Homo sapiens: one gene and its partner. The protein of the gene in region 1 interacts with the protein of each later gene in a pairwise test. Each region holds a gene or a part of one and is shown in the gene's direction. Other genes may lie near its edges.

Region 1 (3,651 bases):
CCAAGGAGGGTGGGGGCTGACTTCAGAAAGCCCTAAATGGCAAGGAGAGGAGTCAAGGCCTTAGTCTGTGGGCAGGGGAGCCATGAAAGGTGTGAGCAGGAGGGGAGAGGATGAAGACTGTGGCGTGCTGCACGGTCAGTGAGGAGGAGAGCTGAGACCTGGAAGGCGGGAGACCCCCGGGGCTAGGAGAAGAAACCTACCTGAATGCAGGTGTTGTGAGGGGAGAGGAGGCCCCATTATGGGGGAGTGTCATGAGGGGAAGGAACCTGCAACCCCGCCCTGTGTGTGGCAGGGGAGGGGGCAGCTGTGGCTGAGGCAGGGCCTTTCCCTGGACCCAGTCGGAGGAATCCCTCTGTCCCACAGGCCCCGCCATGGGGAAGACCAACAGCAAGCTGGCCCCCGAGGTGCTGGAGGACCTTGTTCAGAACACTGAGTTCAGCGAGCAGGAGCTGAAGCAGTGGTACAAGGGCTTCCTGAAGGACTGCCCCAGCGGCATCCTCAACCTGGAGGAGTTTCAGCAGCTCTACATCAAGGTGGGCGGCCGGCACCTGGTGTGAGGGAGCCAAGTACCCGGGTTGGGGGAGGCGAGGAACCGGGGGTGAGGGAGGCAGGGCACCCTGGGATGAGAAGAGGCGAGGCACCCGGGGTGGGAGGGGAGGCGAGGCACCCGGGGTGCGGGGGAGGTGAGGCACCCGGGGTGGCGGGGGCAAGGCACCCGGGGTGGGAGGAGGCGAGGCACCCGGGGTGCAGGGGAGGTTCCCTGAGATGGGGGCGGGGTGGGCGGGGCTGTCGCTGCGCCCCAACCCACCGCACCCCCCTCAGTTCTTCCCCTACGGCGACGCCTCCAAGTTCGCGCAGCACGCTTTCCGCACCTTCGACAAGAACGGCGACGGCACCATCGACTTCCGGGAGTTCATCTGCGCCCTGTCGGTCACCTCCCGCGGCAGCTTCGAGCAGAAGCTCAACTGGGCCTTTGAGATGTACGACCTGGACGGCGACGGGCGCATCACGCGCCTGGAGATGCTGGAGATCATCGAGGTGCGGGGCCGCGCGGGCGCTGCTGTTCCCGAGGCCAGCGCTTCGCCATCCCCGCCCCTGCCTCCGCGCTGCTCTCGGGCTTCGGGGCCTCCCTGCTGCTCCCCAGCCTGCGATCCCGCCTCCTACCACCCCGCTACAGGCCCGGGCTAAATGCTTTACCCGACACTCGACGGGGCGGAGGGGTTGGTTACTGTCCCAAACCCCATTTGGCAGAGGAGGAAACGGCCGGGTTCCTGATTCCAATCCAGGGAGTCTGACCTCATAGCTGATGTTTTCAACTCATTCTGTCAACAGGCAGGGATTGAGCGCCTGCCAGTTCTTGCTTTCATGGGGCATTCCTTCTAGTGAGAAATTTTTTTAAAAAATAAATGAATGAAGACATGCGGGGTCAGGCCGTAGGTGCTATGAGGAAGATACACTAAGCAAAGTGCAGGGAGAGCGCGTGATGGAGAAGTTACTTTATATAAGATGGAAAGTTAGCAGCAGCCTGAATGGGGTGAGGCCTTTACTGCAAGATGCCTGGGGGAAAGCGTTCCATGCTGAGGGGCAATTAAGGCAGGTCGGCCTTTCTCTGCAGAGTTCAAGGAGGGGCCAGGAGGCCCGGTGGTGGGAGAGCCATGAGAGGGAGAGAGTGATAGGAAGGTGGTCATACGGGGAGCCAGGAGCCCCATCAGTAAGGTCTCCACGGAGTTGGGCTTCTGGCATGTTTCATCCACATAAATATTATTTAGTCTAAATAAAAAATTAGTTGAGGGCTGGGCGTGGTGGCTCACGCCTGTAATCCTAGCACTTTGGGAGGGTGAGGCCGGTGGATTACCTGAGGTAATGAGTTCGAGACCAACCCGGTCAACATGGTGAAACCCCGTCTCTACTAAAAATACAAAAATTAGCGGGACGTGTTGGTGCATGCCTGTAATCCCAGCTACTCAGGAGGCTGAAGCAGGAAAATCACTTGAACCCAGGAGGCAGAGGTTGCAGTAAGCCGAGATCGCGCCATTGCACTCCATCCTGGGCAACAAGATCGAAACTCTGTTTCAAAAAAAAAAAGAGTTGCTCATTAAATATCCAGTCTTAATGACCACATATACCTTCCAGTATCCTCACCAACCCCCAGTGTTCTCCCTGCCAGATCCCTTTCCTTCACCCGCTGCTTCTCGGGGCCCCTTGTGGGTGTTCACACCTCCCTCCTCCTTCCCTCACCAGGCAATCTACAAGATGGTGGGCACCGTGATCATGATGCGCATGAACCAGGACGGGCTCACGCCCCAGCAGCGTGTGGACAAGATCTTCAAGAAGATGGACCAGGATAAGGACGACCAGATTACATTGGAGGAGTTCAAGGAGGCAGCCAAGAGTGACCCATCCATTGTGTTGCTGCTGCAGTGTGACATGCAGAAGTAGAAGCTGGTGAGGGGCAGGGTCCCTGGCCAGAAGGGGCATGGCCACCTCCCAACCTGATGACCTCTCTGGCTGGCCTCCCAGGAGGAGGGACACTCCAGCCCCCCTCTCTGGCCCACCCAGTCCTCTGCCCAAGCCCTTCCTCCCCTCCATCAAGATCTTTGAGGGACCACCTCACCCTGCAAAAGAGACAGGTCCTCCAGTACCCTGTCTTCTAGCCCCACCTCCCACTTGGCCAGAACCAATGTCCATTGGGCATAGGGGAGTTGGCTTTTGCCCCAGGAGGTGAGGTTAAGGAGTTGGGGGCCTGGGGTTCTGGTTAGGAATTCTCTTGATCCTGGGATTATGCTTTATAGGATGTGGTCCCACAGGCCTGTCACAGGGCCAAATTGGGTCTGTCCATTCCTGAGGCTCCAGATCCCATAAAGGGGGTCTCTTCCCCATCCCTTCTACTCTACCTGGCCCTTCCAGCCCCAGCCTTTGGAGCGTTCATTCAGTCCTTTCTTCAGCTAATGATTACTGAGCACCTGTTTGGTGCTAAGGATATGGTCATTTACAAGACACATCTTGTGCCCTCTGGAAGCTCATAGGGTTGTGAGGCAAACTTCCAGCCGTCAGGGTCTCAGCTAAGCAGAAGGTGCTGGAAGGCTGGTTAGTCTGGGAGGAGCTATTTCATCTTCCAGCTCAGCTCCACACAAAGCTGCAGAAGGACGAAATGAAAAGCATTTGGAAGTTTAGGAGCCACGTGAGTGAAAGTTTTAAGAAAAATGAAATTTATGTCATACTTATTTTTTTAGTACCCTTTAAAGGAGCTACAGTCATTTTATTATTTCAGGAGGTTAAAATATACTCTATATTACTTGGTTTCTTATAAAATGATTAAATGAATAGAGAAAATATTAATTTTCAAGGGGAAAAAACCTGAGAAGAAAGGGAGAAAAGACCATGAAATTTACCAGATAACACTTTTTAAGACTAAGTCCTGAGCTGCCACTCTCAGCAGTTTTTGCTGCTTCAGCTCTTCCTTTTTATTACCTTTTTCAATTCAACAAGCAACTTTCTGCTACATACTTACTCCGGTTGGGTGCTGACTTCAGGGACAGGAAAAAGCAAGGTTTGCAAAGAGTGAAACTAGTGTATATTCCGTATCTTGGTAGTTCGTTTCTGGATTGGGTTTAGTTTCAGAACTGGACTTGTTCCTTCACTGCCACAGAA
Region 2 (3,651 bases), about 55 Mb from region 1:
GTACTGGAGGGCCTGGGAGCTTTTCCATCAGCCTCGGCCTGAGGTGTGCACTCTTCTCCTGCCCACCCCAGGAATAAATGAGATTCCTGGTTAAAAAGGACCAGAGCAGTCATTTTACAGTTGAGGAAACTGTTGCTCTGAGAAGTGAGGGATTTATTCATGACTACACTGATGGTGAGTGCCCATGTCAGGTCTGGAACCAAAGTCTACCCAGTATCCACACACCACCATCCCTCAGGTGGCTCTGCCACAGTCTGATGGGAGGCTCCAAAGCGGGAGGAAGAAGGAAAGTCTTGCCCACTGCATCTCCTCAGTTGGCCTTCCTCTCTGCCTGTTTTCCCTCCCTACAGTTAGCATCTTAAGCAGCTGCCCCTCTTCCCTCCCGACTGCTCTCACTACTGCAGCCTGGCTCCAGCCGCAGGACACTACTGCTGTGCAGAAGCCCCTACTTGGAACTCCAACTGCATTTTTCACCTTTGCTAACAGTTTTCAGTGGTGGTTGGGAAATGTTATTGGCTTAAGCCTTAGCACAAACCGTCACCGGTGATATTCATTCCATGGAAATGTTCTGAATTCTAAAGCTGAATTTACAAAGCTTCTGGAAAACAACCTGCAACCAAATTAGTGACTGAATTTTTTAGTTAACTCAAAATTCCAAATCAGAGGGTTTTGCAATGCCTGGAGGAACCTTGGAGGCTTTTAAAGTGTTAATGCTATTAATGGCATTCAGAGGGATTTTCTACAGAATTGTCCCTTCATTACCTGTTTATACAGTTTTACTACTTACCAGGGTACTGTATAAATCCTTGTGCTAAATTTTGCTATAGAGTATGTGGTCCCTGCTGTGAGCTGGGAGGAACCAAATACTGTATCTCTATGTTACATAGAAAGCCCTAGGAGACTTTCTCCTGTTATCTGAACAACTATTTGCTGTACTGATAAAAAGGAAACAGCATAGTCTCATTCACTTTTTGAAATGGAAATGATAAAATAAAACACATTTTGGTCATTCGGGAACAAAATACCCTCTCTACTTTTATCACATAAAATTAAATAAATAGAAACCAAAATATTTCAGTATCAATCTTAGTTTGTGCACTTTAGGATAAAGAATGTGTTTACCCAAATCCTTTTGGCCTGGTTACTTAGTTCAGATTTTGAAAGAAAATATATTTGTGGCTTTTATGTGTGAATTTAGACAATGGAATCCATGTGGTGCCTCGTTTTCCCTGAGATTATGTATTAATTCAACCTGTAAATGCAAACCATCTAATAGTCAGCGAGACCCTATAGCCCTGCTGCTTAATGGGGGCACACAAGGGCATGCAGCCCTCGTACCAGGCAGACTGTGTTCATATTAACAGCATCGTGGAGAAACTCATGCTGGGGGACAGGGGAGGGAGATGTAAATGCTCAGCAGGGAGATCTGGAGATTCCTGGAGCAGGTGGAGTTGGGACCTGGCCTTGAACGATGGGTCTGGCTCTGGCAGTCAGTAATGCCAAAGGGAAGAGCAGCATAACTGTCACTTTCCATGGGACAGAAGTGTGTGAATCAAGTTGCAGTGACGCTTCACCTATTTATTATTTTGGTCATTTAGAAGAATTTCATTGTCAGTAGAAGTCCTTTAAATCATTTCCCCTTCAGTGACGTCTCACAAAAGAAAGATCTGTCTTTAGCTTTTTAGTCTCAGACTTTATTAGACAGATACTACCTGTACTCTTATTCTGTAATCTTTGTTGGGATGGATTCACATCTTGCAAAGGAAGGGAGGCATGTAGTATAATGGGGCAAACAGACCCAGCTCTGCCACTCGTTAGATATGTGACCTTCTGCAAGTTGCTTAGTGCCTGTGAGCTTCAGTGTCCTCATGGATAAGAAAGATCCAACACCTTCTTGGAAGGATTATATCAAATGAAGTAACATGAGTAAAGGGTCCAGCAGAATACCTGGCATATAGTGGAGTCAATGAATGATTAATAATATTATTAATAGTGGTCATGAGAGAATATATGTATAACATGTTATTATGTAGACTCACTATATAGACTCTATTCTACATAGAATATAGAACATTATATAACAAACAACTATAATAAGTAGACTATAGTAAACAACCTCACTTTGTCTCAGTTGCCTCATCTTGATGGAAAACTGCTCTTTCTCTCCTGTTACCCTGACAGAGAGCGTCTACATTCTAAAAGAAAGATATTTAACAAAATGGTTGAGTACAGATCCAAGAGTCAAATAGCTGTCTGGTTCAAAGTCCAGCTGTGTGATTTTGAGCTAGTCACCCAATCTCACTTTGTCTCAGTAGCCTTATTTGTAAAAACAAGGCAAATTACAGAGCCATCCCCTGGGTTGCTATGAGGACTCAAACATGCATCCCAAGTGCTCGGTGTTGCTAGGTATGATGGCTCACACCTGTACATTCAGCACTTTGGGAGGCCGAAGCAGAAGGATCAGCCTGGGCAACATAGCAGGACCCCATCTCTACAAAACAATGTTTAAAAAAAAGCAAAGTGCTCAGCACAGTGACTGCATCATTAGGATTGATTGTAGGGCTCCTGATGTTAGCACAGAACACCACAGCCAGGAAGCAGTCTATCTTGTTGGGTGCAAATTGTAACATTCCATTTATGTTTCTTCCTTCTTTTCTTTCTTTAGCACTAAGTCAGGAGATTGGAAAAGCAAATGCTTTTACACAACAGACACAGAGTGTGACCTCACCGACGAGATTGTGAAGGATGTGAAGCAGACGTACTTGGCACGGGTCTTCTCCTACCCGGCAGGGAATGTGGAGAGCACCGGTTCTGCTGGGGAGCCTCTGTATGAGAACTCCCCAGAGTTCACACCTTACCTGGAGAGTAAGTGGCTTGGGCTGTAATACCGTTCATTCTTGTTAGAAACGTCTGAACATTCTCGTGATCTTGTGCCTTTAGGGGCTACAAAATTAAAAATATTTATTCTTTTTTTCTCAGAAACTGGTATGTATCACAGCCCTCTTCACACATTCCAGATGTGGTAGGAGGTTCACAGAATGTGAACTTTGGAGCTGATGACAGTGTCATCAAGTAACTTTCTCCCCCAGTCTGTCCCCAGACCCTGTTACTGTCCTCAGTAACCGGCTGAATGTGTGTTGGGAGAGGGCGGGCCAGGGAAGCGGGTAGGGATAGGAAATCCACCAAGGCCGGGGTTTTAGCTTTTCCCTATATATATATCATGTATCCTGATTTTTCTGTCCCGTTATCACACTAAAAATCCCAGTTGAGGATTTTTCCCAAACGGTCATAAATCAATGAGGAAAGTCCATGGTTTCCCTCTGAGCCCATAATTAGCCTAATTATGCTGACCTTTTCTAATCAGTTGGCCATGATTTGAGTTCCGTGATGTGCCAGCACCTGCCCAGCCATCTGCCTGTCACCCTCGTTCTGGTTTTGGAAAGGTGGAATACTTTCCTCCTCAGCCTTTGCCCCTGTAAGCTGGCCCTAGGAGCCAGTAAAAGAATGAAGAGAATTCCTGTCAAGTAGGAGATTTATTCTTTTGCCGCAACTGTGGCTCTGAGCTAGGCAATTTAGATAAATGCATGTAGCACATTGAGTAGAGTGAAATTAGCTTCTCTTGTAAGGCCAGCTGGTTAGAATGAAGGTGTT

What was found. Proteins that work in one complex are often made in the same cells at the same time.
Region 2: the proteins of HPCAL4 (region 1) and F3 interact in binary tests that used the Homo sapiens proteins (3 or more experiments, as listed by UniProt).

The regions. Positions count from the first base shown.
Region 1 is NC_000001.11:39,681,324-39,684,974, reverse strand, and holds part of HPCAL4 (hippocalcin-like protein 4), read left to right. Parts: intron 1-363; 5' UTR 364-371; coding exon 372-533; intron 534-822; coding exon 823-1,038; intron 1,039-2,241; coding exon 2,242-2,439; 3' UTR 2,440-3,651. UniProt on the Homo sapiens protein: May be involved in the calcium-dependent regulation of rhodopsin phosphorylation.
Region 2 is NC_000001.11:94,535,179-94,538,829, reverse strand, and holds part of F3 (tissue factor isoform 1 precursor), read left to right. Parts: intron 1-2,665; coding exon 2,666-2,865; intron 2,866-3,651. UniProt on the Homo sapiens protein: Initiates blood coagulation by forming a complex with circulating factor VII or VIIa. The [TF:VIIa] complex activates factors IX or X by specific limited proteolysis.